Regions from separate parts of the Homo sapiens genome. Here region 2 is linked to region 1. A link means that fine-mapping ties the variant in region 1 to the expression of a gene that starts in the linked region. Tissue or cell type: whole blood. Region 1 holds a variant in brackets; the other region holds the start of a gene. All regions are shown on one strand. Distances are from middle to middle.

The links. PIP is the estimated chance that this variant, and not a neighbour inherited with it, causes the effect.
Region 2: it holds the start of KAT2B, and the variant in region 1 is fine-mapped to the expression of KAT2B in whole blood (INTERVAL, PIP 0.91).

Annotation. Positions count from the first base shown.
Region 1 is chr3:20,058,555-20,066,742 of GRCh38, forward strand. All of the region lies in intron 1 of KAT2B (lysine acetyltransferase 2B), which reads left to right. Among named protein-coding and RNA genes, the nearest start is that of KAT2B, 22 kb to the left of the region's middle. RefSeq lists an enhancer at 359-528. The variant A/ATATAT (reference allele first, on the strand shown) is at 3,280.
Region 2 is chr3:20,036,386-20,044,573 of GRCh38, forward strand. KAT2B (lysine acetyltransferase 2B) reads left to right here and starts at 4,061. Exons shown (of 18, transcript NM_003884.5): 1 at 4,061-4,395. The coding sequence starts at 4,093. RefSeq lists silencers at 3,323-3,962, 4,133-4,262, 4,463-4,522 and enhancers at 3,686-4,656, 5,373-5,562, 6,924-7,093, 7,174-7,333.

The DNA of each region.
Region 1 (8,188 bases):
CCAGGCAGTTTTGTTCTCCTGAGGGAACCCTGATCCCCACCCTGTATACTTTCCTCTTTTCACTTGTGTCAGATTTTTAAAGTTCCCATAGTTTAAAAATCCCAGCTTGAAGTCATAGCATTATGGTATCTTCTGCTGGCCTTCCATGTACAACTGTGTGAACTGGAAGGATTGTCACACAGTGGAGGAAGAAAAAGGGCTTGTGTCCCAGGGAAGGATTACTGAACCATTTAATCTGTATATGAAAAGCTAAAGTTAATTCAGGGAGAAGAGAAAGGTGTTGCTGAAGTCAAACCATCTTTATCTCTTCAAATCTTGGCTACTCAAAGAGTGGTCTTCACCCAGGAACTTTTAGAAATGTAGAATCTCAGGTTCCACCCGACACCCACTGAATCTTAATCTTCATTTTGATGAGATCTCCAGGTGATTCCTGAGTAGATTGGAGTTTGAGAAGCACTACTCCTAATTACATCAGCATAATTCAAACTGCTCATTTCCAAAGAGAAAACTTCTGGCAATCCCAGCTGCTTACAGTGGACTCCAGGTGTTGTTTTTTAAAAATATTATTAAAATATCTTGCTGGGCATGTGGCTCACACCTGTAATCCCAGCACTTTGGGAGGCTGAGGTGGGCAGATCACTTGAGGTCGGGAGTTCGAGACCAGCCTGGCCAACATGGTGAAACCCCGTCTCTACTAAAAATACAAAAATTAGCCAGGCGTGGTGGCATGCGTCTAGTAGTCCCAGCTACTCGGGAGGCTGAGGCAGGAGAATCGCTTGAACCTGGGAGGCGGAGGTTGCAGTGAGCTGAGATCATCATGCCACTGTACTCCAGCCTGGGCGACAGAGACTCTGTCTCAAAAAAAAAAAAAAAAAAAAAAAGGCCAGGCGTGGTGCCTCACGCTTGTAATCCCAGCACTTTGGGAGGCCGAGGCAGGTGGATCACGAGGTCAGGAGATCGAGACCACGGTGAAACCCCACCTCTACTACAAATACAAAAAATTAGCCAGGTGTGGTGGCGGGCGCCTGTAGTCCCAGCTACTTGGGAGGCTGAGGCAGGAGAATGGCGTGAACCTGGGAGGTGGAGCTTGCGGTGAGCCGAGATCGTACCACTGCATTCCAGCCTGGGCGACTGAGCGAGACTCCATCTCAAAACAAAAACAAAAACAAAAAAAACTTTACTGAGTTATGATTTAGGTACCATAATATTCTCTAGTTTTAAGTGTACAATTCAATGATTTTTAAGAAATTGACAAGTTGTACAATCATCACCACAATCTACCTTTTAGAAGATTTCCATCACCTCCAAAGGATCCTTGGGTCCATTTACAGTTAACCCTGTTCCTACCCCCCACCCCAGATGACCACTAATCTTTCTGTCTCTATAAATTTGCCTTTTCTGGATGGTCATGTAAATGGAAGTATACAGTATGTGGCCTTTTATGATGGGCTTCTTATGCCGAGTGTAATGTGTTTGAGATACATCCATGTTGTAGCATATGTCAGCACTTCTTTATCTTTCATTGCAAGTAATAATCCGTTATATGACTAGAACACATTTTGCTTATGCGTTAACTAGTTGATGGGCATTTAGATTATTTCTGCCTTTTGGCTATCATGAATAATGTTGCTGAGGCATCTGCATGCAAGTCTTAGTATGGATATATTTCTGTTTCTCTTGGGTAGATACTTAGTGGATTTGCTGGGTCATGTGGTAAATTTATGTTTAACTTTTTGAAAAAATTGTTGTTTCTTAAAAAACTGTGGGCTGGGCATGGTGGCTCACGCCTGTAGTCCCAGTACTTTGGGAGGCCAAGGCGGGCGGATCACCTGAGGTCGGGAGTCTGAGACCAACCTGACCAACAGGGAGAAACCCTGTCTCTACTAAAAATACAAAATTAGCTGGGCATGGTGGTGCATGCCTGTAATCCCAGCTACTGGGGAGGCTGAGGCAGGAGAATCTCTTAAACCCAGGAGGCGGAGGTTGCAGTGAGCTGAGATCACGCCATTGCACTCCAGCCTGGGCAACAAGAGAGAAACTCTGTCTAAAAACAAACAAACAAACACACAAACAACAAACTGTGGTAATGCTGGGCATGGTAGCTCATGGCCTGTAATCTTAGTACTTTGGGAGGCTGAGGTGGGAAGATCCCTTGAGTCCAGGAGTTTGAGACCAGCGTGAGTAACATAGTAAGACCCTGTCTCTACCAAAAAATAAAAATAAAAAATAAAATAAAATAAATTATCCAGGTGTAGAGGTACATGCCTGTGGTCCTGTCTACTCAGGAGGCTGAAGTTGGAGGATTGCTTGAACCCAGGAGGTTGAGGTTGTAATAAACCATGATCATGCCACTGCACTCCTGGGCAACAGAGTGAGACCCTGTCTCAAAACAACAACAACAACAACAACAACAAAACTGTGGTAAAATATAGATGATCTAAAGTTTACCATCTGAACTATTTTTAAGTGTCTAGTTCATTGGTATTAAGAAATTCACATTATTGTGCAATCATCACCACCATTCATCCACAGAACACTTTTCAGCTTGCAAAACTGAAACTCTGTGTTCATTAAACAGTAACTCCCTCTTCCTTCCTCCAACCCCTCGGCAACCACCATTCCTATCTCTATGAATTTGGCTACCATAGACACCTTATCTAAGTGGAATCATACAGTATTTGTCATTTTGTGACTATTTTACTTAGCATAACATTCTCAAGTTTCATTCAGGTTGTGGCATGTGTCAGAGTTGCCTTTCTTTTTAAGGTTATATAATAGCCCTTTGAATGTATATACTACGTTTTACTTATTTATTCATCTCTTAAGGGATGCTGGGGTTGCTTGGACCTTCTTGCTGTTGTGCTTAATAATGATACTAGGACATGGGTGTCCAAATATTTCTTTGACTTCCTACTTTCAATTCTTTTGGGTATATACCCAGAAGTGGAATTGCTGCGTCATATAGTAATTCCATTTCTAATATTTTGAGGAACTGTCATACTGTTTTCCATAGCAGCCATACCATTTTACGTCTTCAGCAGGAATATTCAAGGTTTCCAGTTTCTCTACATCCTCTCCAACACTGTTTTCTGTTTCTTTTGTAGTAGCCATGCTAATGGGAGTGAGGTGGTATTTCATTGTAGTTTTAATTTGTATTTTCATACGTATATATGAAAAAATAATATATATGAAAAAATATATTATACATAAAAATATATAATTTATAATACATAAAATATATTATATATTATATATTATACATAAAGTATATAATATATA[A/ATATAT]TATACATAAAATATATATAATATACATAAAATATATAATATATTTGTATAAAATATGTATTATATATTATATATAAAATATGTATTATATATCATATATAAAACATAATATATATTATATATAAAACATAATATATATTATATATAAAACATATAATATATAAAACATATAATATATATTATATATAAAACATAATATATATTATATATAAAACATATAATATATATTATATATAAAACATATAATATATATTATATATAAAACATATAATATATATTATATAAAACATATATATATAAAATATATAATATATAAAAATATATAATATATAATATATATAATATATAATATATAAAATATATATATTTTATATAAAATATATTATATATAAAAATATATATAAAATATATAATATATAAAATATGATATATAATATATAATATATAAAATATAATATATAATATATAAAATATAATATATATAAAATATTTATTATGTATAAAATATAATATATAATATATTTTATATATAATTTATAATATATTATATATAACATAATAAATTATATATTATATATTATATATTATTATATATAATATATAATATATAGAAATTATATATATTTTATTTTATATATATATATATTAGAGGTAGTTTTGCTCTGTCACCCAGGCTGGAGTGCAGTGGCATGATCTCGGCTCATTGTAACGTCTGCCTCCTGGGTTCAAGCGATTCTCTTGCCTCAGCTTCCCGAGTAGCTGGGATTACAGGCATGCGCCGCCACGCCCAGCCAATTTTTGTGTTTTTAGTAGAGACGGGGTTTCGCCTTGTTTGCCAGACTGGTCTTGCATTCCTGAGCTCAGGTGATCCACCTGCCTCAGCCTCTCAAAGTATTGGGATTACAGGCGTGAGTCACCGTGCCTGGCCCATTTTCATAATTATTAATGATGTTGAGCATCTTTTCATGTGTTTATTGACCATTTGTATATTTTCTTTGGAGAAGTGTCTGCTCAAGTCCTTTGCCCATTGTAAAATTTCGTTGTTGTTGTTGTTGTTGAGTTGTAGGCATTCTTTATATATTTTGGATATTAACCTGTTATCAAATATATGGTTTGCAAATATTTTCTCCCATTCTCTGGGTTGCCTTTTCACTCTGTTGTGTATGTCTTTTGGTGCACAGAAATTTAAAGTTTTTCCTAATTCCAGTTTATCTGTTTTTCTTTTGTTGCCTGTGTTTTTGTTATTTATTTTTAGACAGTATCTTGCTCTGTTTCCCAGGCTGGAGTACAGTGGCACAGTCATGGCCCATTGCTGCCTCGAATTCCTAGGCTCAAGGGATCTGCCTGCCTCAGCCTTCTGAGTGGCTGTGACTGCAGGCGTGCACCACTATGTCCAGCTAATTTTTAAAATTTTTGTAGAGATGGAGTCTTGTTTGTTGCTCAGGCTGGTCTTGAACTCCTGACCTTCCCAGCGTGCTGGGATTATACACCTGAGCCACCACACCTGGCCGCCTGTGCTTTTGGTATTATATCCAAGACACCATTGCCTGATCTAGTATCATGAAGATTTTTTCTGTATTTTCTTTTAAGAGATTCTTTCTTTCTTTCTTTTTTTTTCTTTTGAGATGGGGTCTCGCCCTGTTGCTCAGGCTGGAGTGCAGTGGTGCGATCTCACCTCACAGCAACTTCTGAGTAGGCCTCTTTTTTTTTTTTTTTTTTTTTTTTTTTTTTGAGATGGTTGCTCTGTTGCCCAGGCTGGAATGTAGTGGCACAATCTCAGCTCACTGCAACCTCTGCCTCCCAGGTTCAAGCAATTCTCCTGCCTCAGCCTCCCAAGTAGCTGGGATTACAGACGTGAGCCACCATGCCCGGTTAATTTTTGTATTTTTAGTAGTGACAGGGTTTCACCATGTTGGCCAGGCTGGTCTTGAACTCCTGACCTCGTGATCCAACTGCTTCGGCCTCCCCAAGTGCTGGGATTACAGACGTGAGCCACCACGCCCGGCCGAGATTCACAATTTTATGTTGAAGTCTTTCATCTATTTTGAGTTCATTTGTGTGTGTGTTATTAGCTAAGGGTCCAGCTTCATTCTTGTGCACACAGATACCTAGTTTTTCCAGCACCATTTATTGAAAAGACTGTCCTTTCTCTATTGAATGGTCTTGGCACACTTGTCAAAATCATTTGACCATTATCTGTGAGGGTTTATTTCTGGGCTATCTATTCTGTTCCATTAGTATATAAGAAGCTAGCAAACTGTTTTCCAAGGTGGTTGTACCTTGTTACATCCCACAAACACTGTATGAGGATTCCAATTTTTCACATGCCTGATAATTTGTTATTGTCAGCTCCTTTTGAAAAAAGAACTTATTTTGTGTTTAATTGACACCTAATAATTATACATATTGATGGGGGCATAGTGTGGTGTTTTGAAACATGTATACATTGTGTAATGGCCAAATCAGTGTAATTAGCATGTTCATCACCTCAATCACTTGTCATTTCTTTGTGATGAGAACATTCAAAATCCTCTCTTGTAGCTATTTTGTAATATGCAATATATTATTGTTAACTATAGTCACTCTGCTGTGCGATAGAACACCAGAATTTACTCCTCCTATCTATATTTGGTTAGAGAGATCTTATTGGGTGAGAAGTTACGGTTTTGATCCTTGACATTTAAACATTATGACTTTGTCCAGCATGGAGCAGAGAGGTAGTGAATAAGAGTGAGTCCTTCCTCTCTCACAACCACAGTGCCAGTTACCTGCCTGGACACATTTTGTGCATCTGCAGGGTAGAATGAGTAACCCCAGGCAAGTCTCTTATCACCTAGAGCCTCAGCTTTCTCTTTTAATAATGGCAATAATTCATACTTTACTTACATCGAGTGAGATAAGAGTACATGTACATTTTTAATTTTGGGTGCTAAATAAATGTTGGATCAGTTATACTGAATAAATTTTCCATCAACGTGTTCTTGCTGTGGGACATCCTTGACACTAATTTAAGTTTTCCAACAAATGCGACTTTCCAATATTTTAAGCATGACAGAATTTTGCTAGACAGCTGGCTGTCTTTCTCCTGTTCCTCTGGATGCCACTCAAATATCTTCACACCCATCTCACTCATTAACACTGCGTGAACTGTGAGCTCTCCACCCCTTGTCTGTCTGTAATCTGGGTTGTGACTACTTGTTTATCCAGTTTATCTTCTTTCTCATCATCCATCCTGGTTTCTGCATACTATAACAACATCGGTTGCATACTATTGACCTCTAACCCTGGATCCTGTTGGGATGAAAACATTATCCCAGTCCTGTTGAAAGTAGTGCAGTGGCCTTTTCTTCTTTCTTGGTTCTGCAATGTCTGCAGAGATGTGCTCTTGGGGGGATGAAGTCATCTGGGTAGCTTTCCCCTCCCTGTGCCCAGGTTGCTAGCTGCTACAGTAATTGGCTTGGCAGTGCACTCCCTAAAAGGTTGTCCTTCAGCTGGTACTTCATTAAAGCTGCAAGGCCAACTCCCTTGGGAGTTCCCTTAGACAGCAGCTGTCATGCCTAATTAAGGAGAGACATGGGAAAGGTGTTTTGAAAGGAGACCTCTTATCTCGAAGAACAGTGGCCAGGCCTGAACATTGGAATGGGGAGATGAAGGCCAAAGTGGAGGGCATGGTAGCAGCAGCTCAGAAAACTTGGCAGAAAATGCTTTGCTGGCAGTCAAGGATAAGAGCATTGACTGTTTTTTAAAGGACACAGTATGTCCTTTTTAGCAAATCAAGTAACGAGTCCCATATATATTAAAAATTTTGTACACTTAGGTTGTTAGGTGTCCCATGGAGCATGCACACATGCAAGAACCAATTTTCATATCCTGCAAAAAATACTGAAACAAGTAAGGAAAACTCAAGGGATTCTCATATATATCAATAGGGTATAACTTTAAAGAGTTAGGACCACTTAGGGATGCTGAGACTATTCTATGCTTAAACTGTTAGGGTCCATAGTGAAGACCTGGGGCTTGGGGGTGGAGTCCCTTTATAGTCTAGTGCACCAATATCCAATAGTAATATGGAGGCCGCATGTATTATTTAACATTTTCTAGTAGTCCTGTGTATTAGTTTCTTAGGCCTGTCATAACAAATAACCACAAAATATGTGGCTTAAAACAACAAATACAGTTTTTTTTTTATTCACAGTTTTGGAGGCTAGAAGTCTGAGATCAAGATGTCATCTGGGCCACACTCCTTTTGAAGGCTGTAGGGAAGAATCTTTCCTTGCCTCTTCCTAGCATCTGGTGGTGCTTGGCAATCCTTGGCATTCTTTGGCTTATAGTGAGACCCTGGTCTGTCTCATAGTGAGATCCAGCCTCTGCTTCTATCTTCACTTGGCCTTCTTTACTGTTTGTCTGTGTCTGTCTCCAAATCTCCTTCTTCTTTCTCTTAGGAAAACGCCAGTCATTGGTTTTAGGGCTTAGGATAATTTCATCTGCATGTCCTTAACTGATCACATCTGCAATGAACCTATTTCCAAATATGGCCCCATTTTGAGGTTCCAGGGGAACATGAACTTTATTTATTATTATTATTTGAGACAGTCTCACTCTGTCACCTAGCTGGAGTGCAGTGGTGCCATCTCAGCTTACTGCAACTTTGGCCTCCTGGGTTCAAGCAATTCTCCTGCCTCAGCTTCCCGAGTAGCTGGGATTACAGGCATGTGTCACTATGCCTGGCTAATTTTTGTGTTTTTATTAGAGACAGGGTTTCACCATGTTGGCCAGGCTGGTCTCGAACTCCTGACCTCATGTGTGATCCTCCCACCTCGGCATCCCAAAGTGCTGGGATTACAGGCATGAGCCACCGCACCTGGCTGGGACATGAACTTTAGGGCACACACTATTTAACCCACTGCAC
Region 2 (8,188 bases), 22 kb before region 1:
GGAGGATTACTTGAGCCCAGGAGGTCGAGGCTGCAGTGTGCCTTGATCATAACACAGCACTCCAGCTTGGGTGACAGAGCTAGACCCTGCCTCAAAAAGAAAAAAAAAAAGGTTGAATAAAATAGCACTAATGGCGCTGGGCATGGTGGCTCACGCCTGTAATCTCAACACTTTAGGAGGCCAAGGCGGGTGAATCACGAGGTCAGGGGTTCGAGACCAGCCTGGCCAACATGGTGAAATCCTATCTCTACCAAAAATATAAAAAATCAGCTGGGCGTGATGGTGGGCGCCTGTAATTCCAGCTACTCGGGAGGCTGAGGCAGGAGAATCGCTTGAACCCAGGAGATGGAGGTTGCAGTGAGCCGAGATAGCGCCACTGCACTCCAGCCCAGGCGACAAAGCGAGGCTCTGTCTCAAAAAAAAAAGAAAGCACTAATGGTATTTGGGGCATGGTTAAGATTCACACTGGAAATGATTTAATTCATAAATGCTTGAAAACTAGGGAAGGGGATTTTATGTTTCCTCATCCTAGGATTCATTTATTATTTTCAAAACTTTTTTCCTAGGAGGATTTATTTTATTTAATTTAAAATAAATGTTCAGTAATTATAGCCACTTCCCTCAGAGGAAGGTTGGCCCAAGGAGCCCCACTTAGGCATTGACATGTCTCTTTATTTTACACTCATATCCAACTGCTGTTTCTAAAAGCAGGTGTCTGGGAAGAATGTCAGTCATGGTCCATGTACTGGGCCAAACCTGCACTTTGACCACTTGATCTGTACCCTTACAGTCTGTGCCTTTACTGGGGATAATTTCAATCCATCTGTGGGATTCAGGGTTACTGGTACATTACAGAAGCTGTATAGCCTTGGTAGGAAGGAATATGGCAAGAAACTCTGCTAGATGATATAACAATAGATGGCCACAAAACTTGCCTTTTTTAGGAAGGCATCTCTGAGCAAGGAATACCAGATGAATAGGGTTAGCCATGCTGTTTGGTGGAGGGTATCCACATAGTACAGCAAATGCAAAGGCCCTGAGGTAGGAAAGCATTTCCTGAGTTTGGCTGAAGTATACTGCAGCACCAGGGAGAATGGGAAGGGGTGGACCTTATCAACTTCTTGTTATATAATCTCGTGTTCTGAAGTTGAAATTTTATTTTATTGCTATGTACCTTTTTAAATCTTTCCCTTACTTTTGAATTTCCCATGCATTTATTGAACATATACAAAATTGTGCTTATATGTCAATGTGAGTTTGTTTTTAACATAAATGGTATTATGCTGCACTGAGATTTATTCAACAGTGTTTCTTAGAGATCTATGTTATTATATTTTTATAAAGGTCATTGTGTATAACAGGTATAAAATATTCTGTTGTGTGAATATACCACAAGTAACCTCCAGTGGTCAGCCTGCCTCTACCATGCCCACTCTCCAAGCTTTTATTTTCTGAATGTAGCTTCTTTACCTCAGTAAGTGGTAAATACTTTGTAAATGAAAACATTGCCTTTTATTTTCTTGGTAGTTATTTCTTAAAAGTACTGTGTGCACAGAAAGAGCACACTGAATGCTTACAACAACCTAATTATGGAAAAGCAATAAGCCTCCTGAATCCTTTGCCCTTGAAATTTCCTTGCCTGGTGCTCATAACACACTTTGAATAGGTCTTGAAACCACGGGCCTTCAGCCTAAGGCAGTATGTCATCTGGGTACTCTGAGCAGGGAAATAATGAAAAATAATGTTCAGTTAATGGCACAAGCCATTCGCCACTCAGACAGTGATGGTTTTCAGAGTGGATTGAAAGGAGATTGGCTACTTCTGCTTCAAAACATCCTGGAAATTGTCTGCCTCCTGAATTCTGAGGGACGCTTGGGAGGAGGAGTTGATAGGTGACTTAATGTTAAATCTGGGTTCCCTCCCCCAATTGTCACTGTGAAAATTTTCAAACATACAGAAAAGTTGAAAGAATTGCGCACTGTGCCCATTACCTAGACTCTATTATATGGACCCCTATTTGCTTTATCATATCTCTGTTCATCCACCCTTTACCCATGCATGGAGGCATCCATACATCTTATTTTTGATGTATCTCAAAGTACAAAGAGCACCATTAGAGTTCAATGCTTGTGATTTTTCTTTTTTTAAAAATTTTTGAGGCAACATTTATATCCAGTGAAATGTACAGATCTCAAGTGGATCATTCCATCAGTTTGACAAATGCCTGCAAGGTGGAACCCAAGCTCTTATTAGTATCTGTTAAATCCATGTTAGAGGTTGATCAGAGAAGCACAGCCTTTAAGACTCTCACCCTGCTTTGCGGAGAATGGCAAAAATCTGCGAAACATCTCAGCAGAGCCAGGAGAGAGTAACACTGGTAACGTGAAGCACGTCAAGCTAAGAAAGGAAGCACTGAAATTAATTGTCCTGAATGGAACCTGATAAGAATCTGCCATTTCATCCCCTCAAGACTGGACTCAAGTTGGGAGAGAATATTGCCTTTTGCCCTGTCTAAGCTAATATCACTGTTTAGATCTACAAACTCCCCCACCTCCCAATGTTTATATATTAACCTGCATTACAAGTCAAAATAACACAGAGAATCTGGAAAAAGAAGAAGGGGAATGTTTCCCACGAAAAGCACACCCCTTAAAGCGTCTGGCCTGAGAGCTATACAGCATGCATAAAATCTGATAATAAGCACATTATGACCCACATTGCATATAACAAAAAGTAGGGCACTTCTGAAGGGTCCTGAGAAAAAGCCCTGGGCTTTTAAAACCTGCTTAAGAAGGCGATCAACGGTACACCACTTTCAAACGCAGCACTGACTTGTATGCTCCACAGTCATCAACAGTGAAAACAACAGTTTTCAACAAGAGTTGGAAACACTGAGTTGAGGGTTTTTTTTTTCTTTTTAAAGTTTGAGGCCAAAATCGATATTTATTCTTTTGAATTATGCTTATATCTTTTTCCTGGTTAATACGCACGCGGTGGCACAATTTTGAAAACTACGTAACGTTATAGAACCACCACCCAGAAACGAATCCTGTTAACAAACTTTTTGTATTCAAACTTTTTCCACTGCATAGTTTTTGACAATGCTTTTTAGACAATCTTTCTTTTAGCAACCAGCACTTTCAAACAAAAATTACAGAGAATAGTAAGTTTTTTTCCCCTCCTCCGGCAGATTTGACCCAGAAATTGCTATGGGAAGAAAGTGTTAATTATATTAAAAAATAGTTTGACAGAAAGTATTTAAAAAGAGAAAGGGAGAACATCACGTCTTTATTTTGGTGAATTAGCAACAAAGAAAAAGATTAGCATGGACGGGTACTTTTCAAAAATATATTTTTTTTCCTCTGGCTCCCGCTAGGGTGGAGGAAGTTGTCTCTCTGTCAGAGACAGGGTGGAAGAGAGTGAAAGGACAAATGATTGAGAGGCTGCCCCCTCCCACTGGTGCAGGCGTGCGGGGGTCGGATGGGGGGCCGCGGAGGGGGGAGGTGGCCAGCAGGTGCCTGGGCTCCAGGCCCCTACCCCCACCCTCGTCCCCACCCTCACCCACACCCAGGGATTGGCCTCGCCCCCTGGCGGGCGAGCGGTAGGTGTCGAAGCACTGGGGTGGGGGGTGCAAACCCCGCGGGCAGCGGAAAAGAGGCCGTGGGGGGCCTCCCAGCGCTGGCAGACACCGTGAGGCTGGCAGCCGCCGGCACGCACACCTAGTCCGCAGTCCCGAGGAACATGTCCGCAGCCAGGGCGCGGAGCAGAGTCCCGGGCAGGAGAACCAAGGGAGGGCGTGTGCTGTGGCGGCGGCGGCAGCGGCAGCGGAGCCGCTAGTCCCCTCCCTCCTGGGGGAGCAGCTGCCGCCGCTGCCGCCGCCGCCACCACCATCAGCGCGCGGGGCCCGGCCAGAGCGAGCCGGGCGAGCGGCGCGCTAGGGGGAGGGCGGGGGCGGGGAGGGGGGTGGGCGAAGGGGGCGGGAGGGCGTGGGGGGAGGGTCTCGCTCTCCCGACTACCAGAGCCCGAGAGGGAGACCCTGGCGGCGGCGGCGGCGCCTGACACTCGGCGCCTCCTGCCGTGCTCCGGGGCGGCATGTCCGAGGCTGGCGGGGCCGGGCCGGGCGGCTGCGGGGCAGGAGCCGGGGCAGGGGCCGGGCCCGGGGCGCTGCCCCCGCAGCCTGCGGCGCTTCCGCCCGCGCCCCCGCAGGGCTCCCCCTGCGCCGCTGCCGCCGGGGGCTCGGGCGCCTGCGGTCCGGCGACGGCAGTGGCTGCAGCGGGCACGGCCGAAGGACCGGGAGGCGGTGGCTCGGCCCGAATCGCCGTGAAGAAAGCGCAACTACGCTCCGCTCCGCGGGCCAAGAAACTGGAGAAACTCGGAGTGTACTCCGCCTGCAAGGTACGCGCTCGCCGCTCTCGGACCGCGGATGGGTGCTAGGGGCCCAGCCCGCGGGACCCCCCTCCCCCTCCCGCTTCCACCTCCGCCTCCCGCCTCCTGCCTCTCGCCTCCCGCCTGGGGCCGCTGCACCGCGGAAGTGCTCTTGTCGCCCGCGCCCAATTAGCTTCTTCTTGGATAAGAGTCCTGCTGGGTTTGAAGAAGGGGGATCACTAAGACGGAGAGCCCTTCATTCCTTCCGCTTGAAAGGAGTAGCTTCGGCATCCGAGCTCCCGGGCTACCTTGGGGTTTTGTTGCTCTGTAGGAGCTCGCTGGAGTCACTTTCCCGGGAGTGGAGCGGTGCTCTCCATGTGGCGGGTGACCCAGGGGCAAGGAAAAATCTTTTGGGGGACTGAGTGGTCCCTTCTGCAATCGATCCCTTCCTGTGTCCCACTGGGAGGAACTGGGTGCAAGGAGTGGGGGTGGAGAAGACTCCCGGACTCCTGGCGCTTTGGGAAAGCGAAGGGGAGGAAAGCGCGGGGTGGGAAGGTGGGCAGAGTCCGAGGCGAGGGTCTTGTGGTGCCTGGCGCCCTCGGCTGGGGGCGGAGGCACTGCCGCGCGCGGTGACAGCCCTGTCATTATTGTATTATTACTTGTTTAGTTAAAACGCTGTCCCAGCTGCTCGAGGTGTAAACAGGATTTGGCAAAGTGACAGCCCAGCGCGGCGGGCGCTACTGCTCAGTTTGAGGACACCCATTTCTTGCTACCCACTCTCCATGCCAGTTTAGGCACCCTGTCACCTCCAGCTGCAGATCCAGATGTGGAGGCTGTGTTCCCGAGGTGGGAGGATTGCCCGAGGCCGCGGGGCAGGCTGGCCCTGCGCTGTCAGCAGCGGCTTTGTTTTGACAGGGTGACAGCTGAGGGGGGCGGGGACTTGGCCTTGTCAGCTCCTGCGGCCTGTGGCTGAGGCAGGGAAGAGACACACTCACACACACTCACACCTCCCTGTATTCTTCCTGCCTGCTGTAAAGAGGGTCAAGTTCCCAGATTCCAGATTCCCGATTGTCACAACCAAGCTGCAGTGACCACTTCTGAATTTTGACATAACTATAATTTATTCTACTAGAACATCTAGGTTATACTCTTCTTGGTACTTGCAGGAGCTTCTCAGTCACAATGGAATGTCTATGCTTGCTCTTTTTCCACACCATATGCTCAGGTTTATGTTAAGCACCTCTGTATCCTACACTGGTTCAATAAATATTTGTTGAGTGAATGTAGGATCTAGCCCAGTGCTCCTCAAACTTTAATGTGCATGGGAATCTCCTGGGGAAGCTGGTTAAAATGCTGATTATGAATCAGGTGGTCTGAGGTGGAAGCTGAGAGTTTGCATTTCTGACAAACTCCCAAGTGATGCTATGCTAGTCCACAGACCACATTCCAATTCAGACCTGGACAATATATTATTTGTCCCCTTTGATTTTAGCAGAAAAGACAGAAACAAATAATAATGCTATGTGGTTATTTCTGAAGAAGGAATGCAAAAAAGATGAAGTGGGGAGTGTGCTTCTAAGAAAGGTGCAAGCCCAGGAGTTGATCATGAAGGGCATTAGACGAATGAGAACAGGACACCGACTGTAGTAGGCAGAAGGGCGAGCTATGTACAGAATTAAGAACAAGGTCATGGGTACAGGGCATACTGCTTGGGTGATGACTACACCAAAATCTCACAAATCACCATTAAAGAACTTATGTAATCAAACACCACCTGTTCCACAAAAACCTATGAAAAAAAAGAGCAAGGTCAATTACTTGGTGGCCTTGGCGTTTCGCAGCCAAAGTGGGCTCATGCAGGAACTGTCTCAACTCAGTGTTTCTGTTCTGGCTTTATTTTAAAATTTATTTATTGGGTTCTCATCACCAGCACCTCTTAAAGACTTCCTGCTGCCTGCTGTAGCTTTAATATCTGAAAACTTTCCTGAAGTTTTGGTTTTGTCTAAAACCATGAGCATATGTGGCCTGCATTGATATTTTTGATCTTTTCAAATTTCCATGGGTGAGATGTAGCACCACTTCCAAGTGGGATTTGAGTGTTTCCTGGTCACTTTCATGACCCAACAAGAGAAAGAGAAAATTTATTTTAACGTCTTTTTTTTTTTTTGAGACAGGGTCTCACTCTGCCACGTAGGCTGGAGTGCAGTGGCATGATCGTAGCTCACTGCAGACTCAACCTCCCTGGGCTCAGGTGATCCTCCTACATCAGCCTCTTGAGTAGCTGGGACTACAGGCATGCGCCAGTACACTATTATTATTATTATTTGTATTCTTTGTAGAGATAGGGTTTCACCTTGTTGCCCAGGCTGTTCTCAAACTCCTGAGCCCAAGCAATTTGCCCGCCTTGCTTCCCAAAGTGCTGAGATTATAGGCATGGGCCACCATGCCTGGCTGAAAGTGTTCATTTTTATGTATCCATTCATTCAGTAAATATTTAGAGGGTTACCAACTGGGTGTCAGGCATTGGGCTAGGTGCTGGGCCTATGACACACAGAATTTGTCCTTCAGGAGTTACTTATTGTGTGTGTGCACAAGTGCATGTGTGTGTATGCATGTGTTGGGGGCCTAGGGATGAGGGCAGTGAACCAAAATTACAGAGAAGTTCAGAAAAACTACTTTCTTGGAGTAGTTGCGGACCCAGAGCAGGACAGTTCATAGACTGGGGCACTGGTAGGGTGGGATTGGCTTCCTGGAGGAAGTGTCAGTGGCTGCTAAGAACTCTTGGCAGGGCAGAGTGGGGTGGGGTGAAGCTTCTTGTAGTGGAGAAACTGAAAGCAGTTGTGGAAGCTTGGAGGTGGGCCAACTGAGCCAGACCTTTGTTGCCTAGGGCCACCGGCTGGGGTGCGTGGCCAAGAGGGCACTGAGGAGTGCAGGAATCTTAACCTGGAGAGTGACATTATCTCAGATTTGCTTTTTTTAAAAAAAAAAAAAATTTAACTGGACTTGATTGGGTACGAGGGAGTGTAAGAGAGCAAAATCTGTGGTTCTCTCTCAGCTTGTTTCTGCACTTAATATGAGCAAGCCCAAAAGGACAGATTGCTCTACCTTTGCCACAGGCCCCTTGGCAAGTTAGATTAGAGAGATTAGAGAATGAGGAGGGATCTAGAAAGAGATAAGGTAGTTCACTGGGGGGCTTTTGAAAGAAAAACAGGTCCCAGGCCTGATATAAATCTGGCCTTTAAACTTCACAAACGAAACCAAAAAAGAAGGGAGCTAAGTCAGCCAGGGTGACGTGCCACACCCCAGAGAATAGAAAAAGAAAAAAAAAAAAGAAAAAAGAAAAGAAACAAACAAACTTGTTTCGCAGGATCCAGATCTTTGAACTGTGTCCTGGTAAAGGTTGCTTCAGAGTCATTTTGGTTCTGTGTTCATTAAAAATGTAGATCTAGGCCAGGCGCAGTGGCTCAGACCTGTAATCCCAGCACTTTGGGAGGCCGAGGCGGGAGGATCACTTGAGTCCAGGAATTTGAGGCCATCCTGGGCAATATAGTGAGACTTCGTCTCTACAAAAAATAAAAAATTAACCAGGCGTGGTGGCAGAGGTTGCAGTGAGCTGTGATTGCACCGCTGTACTCCAGCCTGGGTGACAGAGCAAGATTCTCCCTAAAAAAAAAAATAAATAAATAAATAAAATAAAGTAGATCTGACCATGTTATACCCACACTTCAGGCCCTTTAATTTCTCTTTATTGTGGTCCACAAGGCCCTGCATGGCCTGGCTACTGCTATCTGTGGCTCCTTATCGAGGGTTCAGGCACATGGTT